Regions from separate parts of the Homo sapiens genome. Here all the other regions are linked to region 1. Evidence: fine-mapped expression QTL. A gene starts in region 1. Each other region holds a variant in brackets. All regions are shown on one strand. Distances are from middle to middle.

The links.
Region 2: its variant is fine-mapped to the expression of IVNS1ABP in whole blood (TOPMed, PIP above 0.99).
Region 3: its variant is fine-mapped to the expression of IVNS1ABP in whole blood (INTERVAL, PIP above 0.99).

What each region holds. Positions count from the first base shown.
Region 1 is chr1:185,315,792-185,318,550 of GRCh38, reverse strand. It overlaps IVNS1ABP (influenza virus NS1A binding protein), which reads left to right and starts at 1,308. Exons shown (of 15, transcript NM_006469.5): 1 at 1,308-1,598. CBSLR (CBS mRNA stabilizing lncRNA) reads right to left here and starts at 1,099. Exons shown (of 4, transcript XR_007066771.1): 1 at 274-1,099. RefSeq lists enhancers at 290-369, 620-719, 1,369-1,982 and silencers at 1,050-1,359, 1,820-1,879.
Region 2 is chr1:185,566,016-185,568,774 of GRCh38, reverse strand. All of the region lies in intron 2 of LINC01350 (long intergenic non-protein coding RNA 1350), which reads left to right. The region is part of intron 1 of LOC107985239 (a long non-coding RNA gene); the gene reads right to left. Among named protein-coding and RNA genes, the nearest start is that of LINC01350, 61 kb to the left of the region's middle. The variant G/A (reference allele first, on the strand shown) is at 1,598.
Region 3 is chr1:185,586,320-185,589,078 of GRCh38, reverse strand. All of the region lies in intron 2 of LINC01350 (long intergenic non-protein coding RNA 1350), which reads left to right. The region is part of intron 1 of LOC107985239 (a long non-coding RNA gene); the gene reads right to left. Among named protein-coding and RNA genes, the nearest start is that of LINC01350, 41 kb to the left of the region's middle. RefSeq lists an enhancer at 2,389-2,759. The variant C/T (reference allele first, on the strand shown) is at 1,159.

The DNA.
Region 1 (2,759 bases):
GAAAAAAAGTTGTAAACCTATTGCAGATGAAGGCTCCCACAATTTATTTTTCCTGCTTCTATAAGCATAAATAGTTAATGATAAAAATGGTAAGAGGCATTGACAAAGAGCTCCTAGAATGTCTACAAATTAAGGTGAGTGATCAAACACAAGGTTAGGCCTAGACAGCTTAAGTGTCCTCCACAAATCAGGATAAGCGTTAACAGGACATTAACCTGGAAGCCTTTACCAAACTCTAATTTGGATATAATTTTACCTCACTAAATCCCTCACCTTCAATCAAAACTCCTTTCCCACGTGCCCTTCAGAGTCCACGAAGTTGCTGCCAGATCCCAGCTTAAATCACGTTTCGCTTTCACAGATCTCCCTCCCGGGCAAGGTGGTGGGGTGGATAATGAAGTTTGGCACCTGGTATAAAGGGCCCCAGTAGGTTAGGATAGGAACTACCACTTCTCAGGTGTGTTTTCTTTTTCCGGAAGAGGGCAAGACCAGTAGAGAACTGACTCAGCGTCTCCGACACGAGGAGAGCTGCACGCAGACAAAACAGACCCGGGGGGTGAAAAGTGGAAGTAAACTGGTGTTTGTGGCACCACTGATTTACACCTTCTCTGACTTCTCCAATATTTTTTTCCCCAAGTGACTCAATCTTCTCACCCAAACCAGGCCAAATGAGGGGTTAGTTGTTCGACTTCTTCTCAGAGTGCCTCTCTTCTTCCTCACACTCTCCACGCCTCCTCTCCGCACCCGCCACTTCCCCCCCGACCCTTAAGTTAAGGGCTCATGCCCAACTAGATCCTAATGTCCACGACGAGCAGCTCCAGTCTAGGGGGGGTTGCCTAGAAGTAGGTCTGACGCCGAGCAATCTAATCTCCCACGTCTGATCTCTCAGGCTATTGTGCCTCGAGGGGAAGTCAGAACAGGTGAGGGCGGCTTGAGGGAACCAGTTCCGGGACAGGCAACGCACAGGGCGGCGAAAGTGAGGGTGCGGGGCAAGGAACGGAGGGAGGGACAAAGGCGCGATAAGAGGAACGAGGGCGCCCCCCGAGCGCCGCCTATCTCCTCAGGATCACCTTGCGCTGACCTAGTTACACCGAGAAGGAAGGAACCCCAGTAGACCAGGGAGGAAGGCGGGGCGGGATGTGGGCGGGGCCGCGGGTGGGGCGGGGCTTAGAGTGGGATCTTTATGGAGCTCGCCTGTGATTTGCAGATGGATTCGAGACGGAAGCGGGCTGGGAGGCGTCGGCGGCGGCAGCGCACGTGGTGACGTGCGAGGGGGTGCGGCGCGAGCGGTCGGCGGCGGCGGAGGCAGTGTCTCCCGGTCGCGCGTGGAGGTCGGTCGCTCAGAGCTGCTGGGCGCAGTTTCTCCGCCTGCTGCTTCGGCGCGGCTGTATCGGCGAGCGAGCGAGTTCCCGCGAGTTCTCGGTGGCGCTCCCCCTTCCTTTCAGTCTCCACGGACTGGCCCCTCGTCCTTCTACTTGACCGCTCCCGTCTTCCGCCGCCTTCTGGCGCTTTCCGTTGGGCCGATTCCCGCCCGCTTCCTCCTGCTTCCCATCGAAGCTCTAGAAATGAATGTTTCCATCTCTTCAGAGATGAACCAGGTAATACGCGCTGGTTCTACGAACGACAGATGAGGGAGACGGCGCGGCTAGAATCCGAGAAGAAGGGATGGCGCCGGCGGATGGGAAGAGGGTGGGAGGCGCGGAAGCGGTGTCCTCATCAGGGGAGGCAGCCCCAAGCGGCCGCCGCCGCCCTCTGGGACGTGAAGCCCGCGCCGCGCTGGGCCCGCGCTCCAGCGCTGCCATGGTTGCCAAGTTGCGTTGGCGGCCGAGAGCGGGCGCCGGTCGCCTCGGAGAGCGCGGAGGCTGGAGCCCCTTTGCTACACTGGCGCGGGTGAGGCAGGCTGGGAGGAACAAGAGTTTTTTGTTCGAAGGGTTTTGGGGGGCCTGGGTTAGGGCGCCGCGGGCGGGGATGACCCGCCGGAAGGAGGGCGCGGGACTCCCCGTTCTTGCTGTCAGGAACGGACGCCTCGCCTCGGGTTTGCCTGGGGTTTGGGATTCTCTTCTGGAAGAGCTCTCGAGACTCGGCTCGTGTGGGCGGGCAGCCAGCCCCGGGCCTGGAGTAGGGTGGCACGGAGTCCCCGATCGCCGTGGGCCGCGGGGTCCTTTGTTCCCGCTCCACGTTGCCCGCTTTTCTTGCCAAGCGCGGGGAGAAGGGGGCGGGAGGAGGGAGGGAGCGGCTGCCCTGACGTGTCGGTACTGAGTGACTGCGGGGCTGGCCAATCCGGGGCGGGGGTGTGCGGGTGCTGGGGGCCTCGCCTCGCAGCCTGCGGAGTGGGCGCCGGCCTGGCTGCGCGAGGAGGAAGGCCTGGGACGCTCTTTCTTTTTTATGAAAGAAATCAGTGGCAAGATTTGCTCTTTTTCCGTCCCTCCACGCTTTTGGTTAAGTGTCTCTGATTATAAGCTCTTGATGATAGGAAGGTATCAGGCTGAGGGTTGAACCTAGGGTAACTTGAACCACTACTTGAGAACTACATTTACTTTTTCCCCCAATAGGTAGTGGACATATCTATTGGTTTGAGACAGCTGACATTTCAAGGAGAAATCAGATGTCCAAAAGGGCGCATTTTTGTGATGGAGCGTGCAGTGATGGAGCGTTAGAACACCTTGGCATCAAGCTGTTCGTTGAGTGTGTCGTGGTCTTCTGTCTACTAATAGATGACAACTCTGGAAGCCTAGTACCACTCTTAACAGATGAATAAG
Region 2 (2,759 bases), 250 kb before region 1:
TTAGGATGAAATAAGCATTTCATGATCTTTAGAAATAAATGATACTTAAGTGTGAGGCAACAGGCAGTAGTGAGTTGGCTCTATCTTTGCACATCATAAGTTGCCCAAACGACATTTCCTTTGTGGTAAATTGTAAAGAAACAAATGTGAAAATTTTACTATGTCATATGCTGCAGTTATGTGTACATATTAAAGAAAAAGGAAGGGAGAAGTACAAAATCAATTTTTCTGCTTACATAAATAATTACCCTAATAGTTTATGAAATAAGAAAAAATTGCTCGAGCAAGAATGAAATCATTTCTTTTAGACATTAGAATCTATTCAGAAATTATGTCTTTTCATTGGACTTTCATCTGGCTTCCAACATGTCAAATCATGTATCTTTTAAACCACATGTTCTTTTTTTGTAGGTTGGATAGTTTCAGACTAGGCTCAATTTACCCCTTTTCTCTATAGAATCATGCACCTTACAGTTCCACTTTTGCCACATCTTTCATACTTTATGTTTCACATTTTATGAATGGGAAACCATATTTTAGAATAAAAATCTGTAATGTCAAACCAACATCATTTTTTCTTCTTTTTTCTTTTCTTTTCTTTCTTTCTTTTTTTTTTTTTTTTTTGAGGCAGAGTCTCACTCTGTTGCCCAGGCTGGAGTGCTGGAGTGCAATGGCACGGTCTCGGCTCACTGAAAACTCCGCCTCCTAGGTTCAAGTGATTCTCCTGCCTCAGCCTCCTGAGTAGCTAGGATTATAGGCATGCACCATCATGCCCAGCTATTTTTTTTTTTAATAGAGACAGGGTTTCACATGTTGTCCAGGCTGGTCTTGAGATCCTGACCTCAAGTGATCTGCTGCCTCAGCCTCCCCAAGTGATGGGATTACAGGCATAAGTCACCATACCCAGCCATCTTTTCCTCCTTGGGGTTTTGCTCTATATGTATAGACCTTGAGAAAGAGCTTTCAAAATAGACTTTATCCATAATCAACATCTTAGGATCTTTTTTCCTCCATAAAGATCTTCAGCATCACTATGCACTACAGTTCATTTCTCTTTTAAAGCAAAACGTAGCATAAACTAGACAAAACCCCCAAATAAGCTCTCCATTTCCTGCAGCTTGTGTAGCTCTAGCAATCTAGTCTATTGCTGGGCAATATATTCAAGCCTCTCACTGATTATGTTATCAAAGCTGTTTAAATTCCATTCCACGAGTTTGTGTATGGCAAAGATGAAGCTGTTTGTTTAATTAAACAATTTCTCTAAAAATGCACACAGTATATTTTGAGAACATAGTGAGACTTTGACCTTGCCTCAACAAGGGCATTTTGCTGCCACCCCCATTCTGCCACACTTTTCAACATGTTATCCCTCTTGAGTTTAATTTCTATGTTGTAAAACATCTCATCAATTGATATCTAGCATTTTGCATCTAATGCATTCTCATAACTTCTAGTTGGCTGTGGCTTATTTCATTGTATGCTTTCTTCTTCATACTTCTGGACAAGCTTTGTTTTTATGGCCTTTAAAAAAACATGGCTGTTATCAAACACTATATACGGAAATGGTTTCCTTGACAACCATAACCACAAGCGAGTC[G/A]TCTGCACCTCTTTCTCATTGCATGGTTTGTTTGGTTGCTAAAACACTTCAAAATATTTTTATTCAGAGTCAGGTATTAAGTACCTGAATTTACAGAGTAAGCTGAAATCCAAGCAGGTGATGAACTATCAGAACGGTTGTAAAGTGGCAAACTCTAATCATTTTCAAGTATTAGAGTTCAGCCTCATGACACAGTCTCTAAAAGGACAAATGCTGAAAGCTTGATATTTAAGATCCAAAATGAATGACTACCTCAAGGACACAAATTAAAAAAAAAGACTGGCTAGAAATGCCAAAGAAGTGAAAAATATTGCTTAAATGGAAGGTGACATTGCAGTTTTATTCATTCATATAAAAATTCCAAATGTTAATTCTTTAATGGGAAAGAGGTCAGCTTCAAGGTTATCAACAGAACAGCAGATATTTTGTCAAAAGTGCTCCTAAGACTATGTCTCTTGACAAAATTAAGCACAATATATATGGAGCTTCCATTTAAAATAGTTTTTGAAAATTTTCTTTGGTTAAATGTCTCATAGCTCATAAGATTCAGAAAATCTCTATTTCTGGGAACTTCTCAGGGTAAAAATATTTTCCCAAATATCAATTTTTTACAAGGAAATATACAGCTTGCATGGATTACAAAAAAAATTAGAAAGATCAACATGAGATTCTGTACAATGTGATAAGCATCCCAAGAAAAAATCACTAACAATGTCATCTCACTCCATACTGGTCTAGTCTCCTAATATCTGTCAAAGACAGGATATAATAAAAAACATGGTTTACTGTCCCCCCCACCGCATCATGTCCAAAACCATGGTTAAGTTGGAGATGTCTTCAGATTGGTTGGAATCAGAGTAATTTGACTGAAATAAATCACATAAATAATCCTATTTGTGTTCATGCATGTTTATAAAAAACAATTGTGCAAAAATATGAACCTGAAAATTTAATCAAGAGAGGTAGTGGCAATTCTTATGAGAAATTGGAGCTCTGGGTCACCAGGTAGGTTGAGCAGCAGGTGAAAAAAAATTATACAGAGCGTTTTTACTTATAGAATTTTACTTAACAGCTCTGAAAGAGCCTGTGAGGTTAGGTATGAATTATGGCAGGGGAAAGGCAGGCATAAGAAGGAAGGAAGGAAAGAAGAGAGGGGAGGAGG
Region 3 (2,759 bases), 270 kb before region 1:
TATTTTGTTGATTTGGGGTGGAGTGTTCTCTAGATGTCTATTAGGTCCACTTGGTGCAGAGCTGAGTTCAAGTCCTGGATATCCTTGTTAACTCTCTCATTGATCTAATACTGACAGTGGGATGTTAAAGTGTCCCATTATTATTGTGCGGGAGTCTAAGTCTCTTTGTAGGTCTCTAAAGACTTGTTTTATGAATCTGGGTGCTCGTGTATTGGTTGCATATATATTTAGGATAGTTAGCTCTTCTCGTTGACTTGATCCCTTTACCATTATGTAATGGCCTTCTTTGTTTCTTTTGATCTTTGTTGGATTAAAGTCTGTTTTATCAGATACTAGGATTGCAACCCCTGCTTTTTTTTGCCTTCCATTTGCTTGGGAGATCTTCCTCCATCCCTTTATTTTGAGCCTATGTGTGTCTCTGCACATGAGATGGGTCTCCTGAATACAGCACACTGATGGTTCTTGACTCTTTATCCAATTTGCCAGTCTGTGTCTTTTAATTGGAGCATTTAGCCCATTTACATTTAAGGTTAATATTGTTATGTGTGAATTTGATCCTGTCATTATGATGTTAGCTGGTTATTTTGCCCATAATTGATGCAGTTTCTTCCTAGCATCAATGGTCTTTACAATTTGGTATGTTTTTGCAGTGGTTGGTACCAGTTGTTGCTTTCCATGTTTAGTGCTTCCTTCAGGATCTCTTGTAAGGCAGGCCTGGTGGTGACAAAATCTCTCAACATTTGCTTGTCTGTAAAGGATTTTATTTCTCCTTCACTTATGAAGCTTAGTTTGGCTGGATATGAAATTCTGGGTTGAAAATTCTTTTCTTTAAGAATGTTGAATATAGGTTCCCAATCTCTTCTGCCATGTAGGGTTTCTGCTGAGAGATCCGCCATTAGTCTGATGGGCTTCCCTGTGTGGGTAACCCAACCTTTCTTTCTGACTGCCCTTAACATTTTTTCCTTCATTTCAACCTTGGTGAATCTGACAATTATGTGTCTTGGGGTTGCTCTTCTCGAGGAGTCCCTTTGTGGTGCTCTCTCTATTTCCTGAATTTCAATGTTGGCCTGCCTTGCTAGGTTGGGGAAGTTCTCCTGGATAATATCCTAAAGAGTGTTTTTCAACTTGGTTCCATTCTCCCCGTCACTTTCAGGTACA[C/T]CAATCAAACGTAGATTTGGTCTTTTCTCATAGTCCCATATTTCTTGGAGGCTTTGTTCATTCTTTTTTACTCTTTTTTCTCTAATCTTGTCTTCTTGCTTTATTTCATTAATTTGATCTTCAATTACTGATATCCTTTCTTTCACTTGATCAAATTGGCTATTGAAGCTTGCGTGTGCCTCATGAAGTTCTCGTGCCATGGTTTTCAACTCCGTCAGGTCATTTAAGGTCTTCTATACACATTTATTCTGGTTAGCCATTCATCTAACCATTTTTCAAGGTTTTTAGCTTCAATGGGTTAGAACGTGCTCCTTTAGCTCAGAGAAGTTTGTTATTACCAACCTTCGGAGGCCTACTTCTGTCAACTCGTCAAAGTCATTCTCCATCCAGCTTTGTTCCTTTGCTGGCGAGGAGCTGCAATCCTTTGTAGGAGAAGAGGTACTCTGGTTTTTAGAATTTTCACCTTTTTTGCTCTGGTTTTTACCCATCTTTGTGGTTTTATCTACCTTTGGTCTTTGATGTTGGTGACCTACAGATGGGGTTTTCGTGTGGATGTCCTTTTTGTTGGTGTTGATGCTATTCCTTTCTGTTTGTTAGTTTTCCTTCTAACAGTCAGGAACCTCAGCTGCAGGTCTGTTGGAGTTTGCTGGAGGTCCACTCCAGACCCTGTTGTCCTGGGTATCACCAGCAGAGGCTGCAGAACAGCAATATTACAGAACAGCAAATATTGCTGCCTGATCCTTCCTCTGGAAGCTTCATCCCAGAGGGGCACCTGCCTGTATGAGGTGTCTTTTGGCTCCTACTGAGAGGTGTCTCCCAGTTAGGCTACATGGGAGTCAGGGACCCACTTGAGGAGGCAGTCTGTCCATTATCAGAGGTCAAACCATGCTGGGAGAACCACTGCTCTCTTCAGAGCTGTCAGACAGGGACATTTAAGTCTGCAGAAGTTGTCTGCTGCCTTTCATTCAGCTATGCCCTGCCCACAGAGGTGGAGTCTATAGAGGCAGTAGGCCTTGCTGAGCTGCGGTGGGTTCCACCCAGTTCAAGCTTCCCAGCCACTTTGTTTACCTACTCAAGCCTCAGCAATGGTGGACGCCCCTTGCAGGGCTGCACCCTCGTAGATTGATCTCAGACTGCTGTGCTAGCAGTGAGCAAGACTCTGTGGGTGTGGGACTTGCCAAGTCTGGCATGGGAGAGAATCTCCTAGTCTGCTCGTTGCTAAGACTGTGGGAAAAGCACAGTATTTGAGCCAGAGTATACCGATTTTCCAGGTACAGTCTGTCACGGCTTCCCTTCGCCAGGAAAGGAAAATCCCCTGACCCCTTGTGCTTCCCAGGTGAGGCGATGCCCCACTCTGCTTTGGCTCACCCTCTGTGGGCTCCACTCACTGTCCAACCAGTCCCAATGAGATGAACCAGGTACCTCAGTTGGAAATGCAGAAATCACCCATCCTCTGCATCGATCACGCTGGGAGCTGCAGACTGGAGCTGTTTCTATTCAGCCATCTTGGAACAGATTCTCTTTCATCAACACATTTTATCACCATTTATTCCACTGCTCAAACCCCAAACCTAGAAAGCACTTATATTCTCCCCTTTCCA